Regions from separate parts of the Homo sapiens genome. Here all the other regions are linked to region 3. Evidence: fine-mapped expression QTL. A gene starts in region 3. Each other region holds a variant in brackets. All regions are shown on one strand. Distances are between the middles of the regions. Region 1 overlaps ASAP3 (ArfGAP with SH3 domain, ankyrin repeat and PH domain 3). Region 2 overlaps ASAP3 (ArfGAP with SH3 domain, ankyrin repeat and PH domain 3). Region 3 holds the start of TCEA3 (transcription elongation factor A3).

Evidence for each region.
Region 1: its variant is fine-mapped to the expression of TCEA3 in whole blood (TOPMed, PIP above 0.99).
Region 2: its variant is fine-mapped to the expression of TCEA3 in whole blood (TOPMed, PIP above 0.99). The same link has a PIP of 0.9 or more in blood mononuclear cells and left ventricle.

What each region holds. Positions count from the first base shown.
Region 1 is chr1:23,447,633-23,450,390 of GRCh38, reverse strand. The region is part of intron 5 of ASAP3 (ArfGAP with SH3 domain, ankyrin repeat and PH domain 3); the gene reads left to right. Among named protein-coding and RNA genes, the nearest start is that of TCEA3, 24 kb to the right of the region's middle. The variant A/C (reference allele first, on the strand shown) is at 1,588.
Region 2 is chr1:23,463,752-23,466,509 of GRCh38, reverse strand. The region is part of intron 1 of ASAP3 (ArfGAP with SH3 domain, ankyrin repeat and PH domain 3); the gene reads left to right. Among named protein-coding and RNA genes, the nearest start is that of ASAP3, 19 kb to the left of the region's middle. The variant T/G (reference allele first, on the strand shown) is at 1,053.
Region 3 is chr1:23,423,575-23,426,332 of GRCh38, reverse strand. TCEA3 (transcription elongation factor A3) reads left to right here and starts at 1,585. Exons shown (of 11, transcript NM_003196.3): 1 at 1,585-1,768. The coding sequence starts at 1,700. LOC124903875 (a long non-coding RNA gene) reads right to left here and starts at 1,467. Exons shown (of 3, transcript XR_007065535.1): 1 at 1,172-1,467; 2 at 73-155.

The sequences.
Region 1 (2,758 bases), 24 kb before region 3:
GGCCATCTTTGTACACCATTACATATTCTTCCACATCAATCAAACGGGTGTGCCAAAACCTGCATAAGCCATTATGTATTTAATCTGTTCCTGTCATTGGAGAAGCATCCTTGGATTTAAATATTTGTCCCTACTCATAATTATTTTTGCAGGATCAATTTCAAGAAGTAGATCCTGGAGCTTTTTATTGTTCCCTCAGCTCCCAGAGCCATGGCACCGCTCCAAGTCTGAGGCAAGGTCACATCTTGTCCCTGCACAAGCATCTCCAGCCCCAGCTGTGGGCATAGATCCTGTGATGAAGGGTGTAGACACTGTGTGGCCATCCCTGTGGGGCCCTATCCCTGCCTGTGATGGGGCACGGCCATCTGCTCTCACTGGAGGCCCAGGGACGGGTAGTGAGGGCACAGGCTGACCTTGTCTTCATGATTTGCTGTGGGGCCACATGGCCCTCTTCTTCCTGAGTTACCTTAACTAAGCCGTTAGACTTTCGGGGATCGTCTACCAAATAGAAATAATAAGCTCTACTCTGCTGACCTTCCCAAAGCAGGTCTGCTTTTCCTAGGTTTCTATATTGAGCCTTCCTGTAGCATTTCATTTACAGGCCAGACTCCATTTAGTTGATGGGAAAGGGGGCTTGGCTGAGGTTATTCGGTGAGTTATCGATAGGACCTGGACTAGAACCCAGGGCTTCTGAGTCTAGTGCTATTTCTGCCATGTGGTCTCCTGGCTCCCACCATGGAGCCACATAGTTTGAGCTAATGTCTTGGCACGGGTGACTGTACACTCCTTTTCATACGGGCTCCAGGTGTAGCCAGATATGCGTGAGCCGTAAGTTCCTATGTAATTTCACCACATTCCTACCAAACAAGTCTGAGCCCCAGCTGGAAGGGCCCAGGGCCCTGATAGCATCTGTCAAATACCACTGGGAGCTTCACCCCTGGCTGTTCATATAGGAGGAGGATTACCTCTCCACGTGGGGCTGCTGAGAAAGGCATCCCGGGCCCTGTACAGAGGCCAAATTTATCTAGGCAGTTCCATGTACAGGTCTGTTTCCTCATCTGTACAATAGGGACAGTAATACCTTTCAGGGTCAATGCGGCGATGAATAAGCACGGTGCATATAAAGCACTCAGCACTTCAGTTCAGCAAGTATTTATTGACCACCTATATGAGCCAGAACTAGGACCAGAATAACACAGGAAGAGATTGACAGGCAGAAACCCACACATCTGCTGGTAGCATTTACCCTAGCCAGCTTTTAATCTTGTGCAAGCCATTTTCCTTCTCTGGATCTCAGCTTCATCATCTGTAAAATGGTCCCTGTTCTGAGAGAGACTGTTATCTCTCAGAAAATAAACAGTGTGACTGTCAGCAGCTCGCAGGAATGAGGCAGGGAAGGAGGAATGGAACAAACCTGAGTCACAGTGTTGGTTGCTTGGGCTGCCCCTAAGGCTTAGGCACCAGCCAGTCCTGGGTTCAACTCCTGGCCCCACCACTTAACAGCTGTGTGACTTGGACAAATGACTTATCTCAGCCATAGGCTCCTCTTCTATAAAATGGGATAATGATCCTGCCTTATGGGGCTAT[A/C]ATTTTAACATATGAAGGGCCTAGCAGAGTGCCTGGGCCTAAAAATTATAACTAGGAGCCTGTAATCCTAGCACTTTGGGAGGCCAAGACAGGAGGATCACTTGGGCTCAGGAGTTCGAAACCAGCCTGGGCAACATAGTGAGACCTTGCCTCTATTTAAAAAATTGATAATAATAATACATATATAATAAATATAATACATATATTTAGAAGCCACACATGGTGGCTAATGACTGTAATCTCAGCTACTTGGGAGGCTGAGGCAGGAGGATTGCTTAAGGCCAGGAAATTTGAGACCAGCTTGGGAGACAGAGCTAGACCTTGTCTCTAAAAAAGAATAATAATAATAATTAGTAATAATAGCAGCTTCTACTTTAGAGTTTCCTTTGTGCCAGGCAGTGGAGTAAGGTCTTTGCATCTATTACCAGATTTATTCTCCCTGGCAGGGAAAGCTGCTATTGTTATTCCCAATTTATAGGTAAGTAGTGAGGAATCCCTGCCACCTAAGCGTGGCTCAAGGTTTCAAGGTTGGTGGGTGTGTGGTATTTAAATACTTTCCTGCCTGCACCAGGAGTACCTGTACCCATCCCATGAATAACACTGGACTGTTGCTGTAGTCTCCTTCTGCAATGATCTCGGTCTTAGTAACTAGCATTTAAGTACTTTCACCCACTATTTCATTTCATTCCTTCTATTGCAATTCCACTCATAAGACAGAAAAATGTTTCTAACATTTGAAATGTTTTAGAAATGTTTTAAAAATGTTGGTGATCCTTTGAGGATAGGGAAGGAATGGGACTTGTTATTTTATAGGGGAAGAAAAGCACTCCCCAGCTATTAGGTCATCTCAGAATGACTATGTCAGACTTTGTAGGGAAAATCTCTATGAATTATCTTAGCTGAGGCTGAGGGACAGAACTGTGATAATTGACAAAGCCATTTTGTCACAGCTGTGTACATTTTGTCAAAGCTGAAGTACATTGACAAAGTTGTGTACTTCACGGCTTATCTACACCTTGAGTTAAGTAGCATCTTTTAATCTCTACTAGCATTCAAAAAATAAAAGAAAGAAAGAAGAAAGTACCATATGCTGAAAAAAATTATCTAAAAGGGATCACCAGTATTTACTACTCTGTCATCATTGCCATCACTTGAATCATCATAATCCTAC
Region 2 (2,758 bases), 40 kb before region 3:
GGGGACACAAAGGGCAGTGCCAGCAGCTGGAATTTAGGCCTTGTTTAGGGCCAGCCAGGGTAGGCTGCCCAAAGGACTCCAGTGGGCTTTCCAAGCTCAGACGTGTCTCTTACACTAAGATGTGTTTCAGCCACCTTTGCCCAGTGCCTGCCAGGCTCTTGCATGGATCCATTGACTCTTAGCTTTGAATGAAATCTAAATAGCTGTCCATTCTAATCCAAAATCCAGTGTCTGAATCACTCTCTAGCACCTAAAGTATTTGAATACTTCAAGTGACAGGGAGCTCACTGCCTTCAGGGGTGGCCTGTTCTTCCTTAGAAATGTCCCCTGTTTGAGCTGAAGTCTGTTTCTGCCTCCCTAACTTCCACCTCTCAGTCCTGGGAATCCTCTCTGAGGCCAGCCTGAACAAATCCGTTTTCTTTTCAGTAGGACATCCTTTACAGTGTTTGTATTCGGGGCCTCACCATTGCTGTCAACCTTGTTTTCCTTGGACAGATCTCCCTCTGTGCCCTGCCTTCTCCCTTTCCTAAGCCTGAGGGGATGGTGAGGGAATATGGTAGAGGTGGTAGAATTGGGATTTAGGTTTGGAGGCAGATCCAGTCCCAAGATCAAATAAGCTGTGCCCCCTAACTTTGTGGGGCAGCTTAGAGATGGGGAAAGAACATTGGCCCTGGATTTGGCTAGTCCTGGATTTAAATTGTAACTCTGGGCCAGGTGCAGTGGCTCATGTCTGTAATCCCAGCACTTTGGGAGGCCGAGGTGGGCAGATCATCTGAGGTCGGGAGTTCGAGACCAGCCTGGTCAAGATGGCGAAACCCTGTCTCTACTAAAAATACAAAAATTAGCTGGGCATGGTGGCACACGCCTGTAAACCCAGCTACTCAGGAGGCTGAGGCAGGAGGATCGCTTGAACCCAGGAGGCAGAGGTGGCAGTGAGCTGAGATTGTGTGTCTGCACTCTAGCCTGGGCGAGAGTGAGAGTCTATCCCCCCCCCAAAAAAAAAGAAAGAAAAAAAAGAAAAAAAGTTACAGCTCTGCCACTGTTCATCACTG[T/G]GTGACTTGGACATGTTCCTCCTCCTGACAGCTTCATCTTTAAAATGGGAATGGCAATGCCTTCCTCAAAGAGTGGCCAGGATAGTGACAAGTAATGAGGCTGCACAGAGCAGGCACTTGGGACATGCTGCTTGCACTCTCCCTGCCCGGCGGCAGAGGTCTGCTGTGGTCCCTCTCCACCTGTGCTTCCCCACAGCTTGCTGACGAGGATCAACATGGAGTTGGGGGTGTGGGGAGATATGTTTAATTAATTCAATGAAAGTTGAGAAATTCCTAAACCAAATTCAATTTAATTTTGAAGTAGATAACATTTTTAGTTATCAAATAGTGGACAGTATTCTAAGCACTTTACCTATAGAATTTACTTAATCTCCCCAGTAACCTTATGTGGTACGCAATATTATCATCTTCATTTTATGAATGGGGAAATTGAGGGACTGAGAGATCACATCAGGTACCTGGTGGAGCTGGAATTCAAATCCAGGTAGTTTGGGGACAGCCCCATACTTTTAGCAATGATGATGTACTGCATCTCTGAAGAGAATTAGAACAGTAATTCCCAAACTTTAGCATGCATTAGAATCACCTGGAGGGCTTGTTAAACCACAGATTGCTGGACCTCACCCCCAGATTTTCTGATTCAGCTGGAGAATTTGCTTTTCTAACAAGTTCCTGGATGATGCCTGCTGCTGGTTGAGGGCCCCCACCTTGAGAATCTCTGACTATCAGGGATTAAATGGGCCCACCTGAACCCAGAAGCTGATTTTTTTTTTTTTTTTTTTTTTTTTTTTTTTTTTTAAGACAGTGTCTCATTCTGTCACTCAGGCTGGAGTGCAGTGGCATGATTATAGCTTACTGCAACCTCGAACTCCTGGGCTCAAGGGCTCCTCTCATCCCAGCCTCCCAAATAGCTGGGACTACAGGTGTGTGTCACAGCACTTGGCTAACTTTTTTAAAAAATTTTTTGTAATGGTCGGGTGCAGTGCCTCATGCCTGTAATCCCAGCACTTTGGGAGGCCAAGACAGGAGGATCAGTTGAGGTCAGGAGTTTGAAACCAGCTTGGCCAACATGGCGAAACCCCATCTCTACTAAAAATACAAAAATTAGCCGGGCATGGTGGCGGGCACCTGTAGTCCCAACTACTTAGGAGCCTGAGGCAGGAGAATCGATTGAACCTGGGAAGTGGAGGTTGCAGTGAGCCGAGATCACACCACTGCACTCCAACCTGGGCAACAGAGAGAGACTGTGTCTCAAAAAAAAAAATTTTTTTTTTTTTTGGTATAGATCGGGGTGGGGGTCTCACTTTGTTGCCGAGGCTGGTCTTGAACTCCTGGGCTCAAGCGATCCTCTCACCTTGGCCTCCCAAAGTGCTGGGATGATAGGAGGGAGCCGCCACACCTGGCTTTTCCTTCATCTATCCAGTTTCATGGGAAACGAGGGCTGATCTCACACAGAGGCAGAAAACAAACCACAGTAAGAACCATACTCATGTTTTCCAAATGCCTCAAGCCTTGCCATGTTTGTGATCTCATTAAGCCTCACAGTAATTCTGTGAGTTAAGCAGAGAATGGATTTTTCTGCCTGTAATCCCAGCACTTTGGGAGGCCGAGGCAGGCGGATCACGAGGTCAGGAGTTTGAGACCAGCCTGGCCAACATGGTGAAACCCCGTCTCTACTAAAGATAAAAATTAGCCAGGCATGGTGG
Region 3 (2,758 bases):
TCATGCCTTCCCTCCAGGTTCCTGAGCCCCACCCCCATCACAGGAAGATCATTTTCTGTCCATTAAACTCACTTATTTAGCAAGAGAACTGGGTCTGCAGGAGATACTTGAAGATCATTGGAGATCATTCCACAGGAAGGCAGATCCCTGCATGGCTGGGGAAGATAGGCACAATTGTGTTTCCACCCCTCCACTAAGATGACTTCCAAACCCAACCCCACTGAGGGGATACTGGCCTGACCTGGCAGCCTTGCACCTGGATCAATATTTCTCAAAATTTGGTGCACTTAAGAATGAATCTCGGCGGGGTGCGGTGGCTCACGCCTGTAATCCCAGCACTTTGGGAGGCCGAGGCAGGCAGATCACGGGGTCAGGAGATCGAGACTATTCCGGATAACATGGTGAAACCCCATCTCTACTAAAAATACAAAAAAATTGGCCGGGCGTGGTGGCGGGCGCCTGTAGTCCCAGCTACTCAGGAGGCTGAGGCAGGAGAATGGTGTGAACCCGGGAGGCAGAGCTTGCAGTGAGCCGAGATCGTGGCACTGCACTCCAGCCTGGGCGACAGTGCGAGACTGCGTCTCAAAAAAAAAAAAAAAGAATCTCATCTGTAATTACAGCACTTTGGGAGGCCAAGGCAGGCGGATCGCTTGAGACCAGGAGTTCCAGACCAGCCTGGGCAACGTAGTAAGACCTAGTCTTTACAAAAAATTAAAAAATTAGCTGGGCATGATGGATGGCTCACGCCTGTAGTCCTAGCTACTCAGGAGGCTGAGGCAGAAAGGATCACTTGAGCTGGGGAAGTCGAGGCAGTGAGCCTGATTGCTCCACTCCACTCTGGCCTCAGCCACAGAGGGAGACCCTGTCTCAAAAAAATAAAAAGAATCTCCCCGATAAGCTCTCACTACTCGAGAGTGTAGTTCTGGGACCAGCAGCACCCCCAGCACATAGGAGCTTGTTAAAAATGCAAAGCCTTACTAACAAAACAGCCAGCAAAGGAAGTTTTAGGTAGACAGAGGCAAACAGGAGCCTGGATACACGTGGCATGCACAGGCCGTGTGCACGATGGAGTGAGTGCAGGTTAAAGCAGAGCTGGATTTAGTGATCTACACACACACACACACACACACACACACACACACACACACACACACACGGGATTCGAGCGCACCGAGTTGCCTCCACTTGGGCATAGGCGCGGAACTGTGTCCTCCCGCTTTGAGATGCAACGGTGCAGAGACGCGGGAGCCCAGAACGCTTCCCAGGGCCCCTGGGACACCCTCGGGCGCCCTCCGCGCCGCGACCGCCGCCTGTGGCCAGGTCACAGCCTCCCAGCTCGCCAGAGAGCCCTCCTTCCCAAATCTCTCTTCGGTCCCCCGGCGCCCCTGGAAGGGCCGGAGTTGGAGGGTCCCCTCTCTCAGCCTCGTCCCTCCCCTGAGGCCCGATCGGCCGGCGCGGGCAATCAGTGCCCGGGCAAGTCCTTGAAGTCTATATTTAGTGCCCGCCACCCCTCCCCCGCACAGTTGGGAGGCGGGCGGTGGGGGGGTGGGGGTGGGGAGAGCCCCGCCCCCGCCGGGCGTGTGTGTCGTGTGTGTTTGGGGCCCGCGCGGGTTGCGCGCCCTCCGCCTTCGCGCCTCCTGCCCCCGAGGCCCTACTGCTGCCCCTGTGCCCCTCGCCCCGCCGGGCGTCGCGGGCCAACATGGGCCAGGAAGAGGAGCTGCTGAGGATCGCCAAAAAGCTGGAGAAGATGGTGGCCAGGAAGAACACGGTGAGGCTGCAGAGTTTGGGCCACGGCCCCCGCCCCCGGGAGGCGCGGGCAAGCCCCGGATTCCGGGGTGGGGACGTACTGGCGGGGCGCCATGGGGGCGCGTACGGGACTCGGGGACCCGAGGGAGGAGCGGCTGGTGCAGGGCCCAAGGCCCCTTGGGGACCCTTGCTGAGCACCTCGAGGTGGGCGTGTGCGTGGCCCAGGACGCCAGGGGGATCGTGCGGGTCCCGGAGGCGCGACTTGTGCACGTCCCTTTGGACGTGTAGGGTTCACCCTGGGCAGCTAGTGCAGGGCCCAGGAAAGCGGGCGAAGAGAGCTGGACGTGGGAAAGGACTTTGGGAGTCCCAGGGCTTGGCGTGTGCAAAGCCCGGGGAGCGGCGGCGATGGCGGGGGCGGGGCGGGGGGCAAATCCGGGTGGCCCGAGAAGTGGCAGAGAAACTTGGGCTGACGGGGGTACTGAGCTGCATCCCTGCACCCCGGAGTGGGTCTGCGGGAGAGAAGTAAAAGGCCGTGGATCCTGCGACCCCACCGCTTGGTGCGTCAGGAGCGGTTCTTTTGGCAATTTTCCCTTTCCTTGGCCTTGGGGTGCGGCCCGGACGGGCGGGGGCCGAACAGGTGCGGGGGCCCGCGGGGCGGGGGAAGGGGGCCGGGCTGGAGGCCTGTGCAGCGAGGGCGAGGGCGGAGGGAGGAGCGGGCTCGGCGGGAGGTTGGGAGCAGGGCTGACAGCCCTACCGGAGGGTCCTGGCCAGAGCGCAGACCCAGCTGGAAGTTAATGTTTGATCTTCCCCGTGATCTTTGCCTGGGGCTGGCGGCCGACTGGTCGCCTGGCCAGAGCAAATTTGGCCTTGGGTCCTGGAGGGCCTGCGCTCACCCTGGGAGGGAAAAAAAGGGAGCCTGGTGAGCATGCCCTTCCCACCTCCCGTTCCTGTTCCAGGGTCCTCTTCCTCCCACCATCCGTAGCCATGTGCTGCAGCCACCTGCATTTCCAGG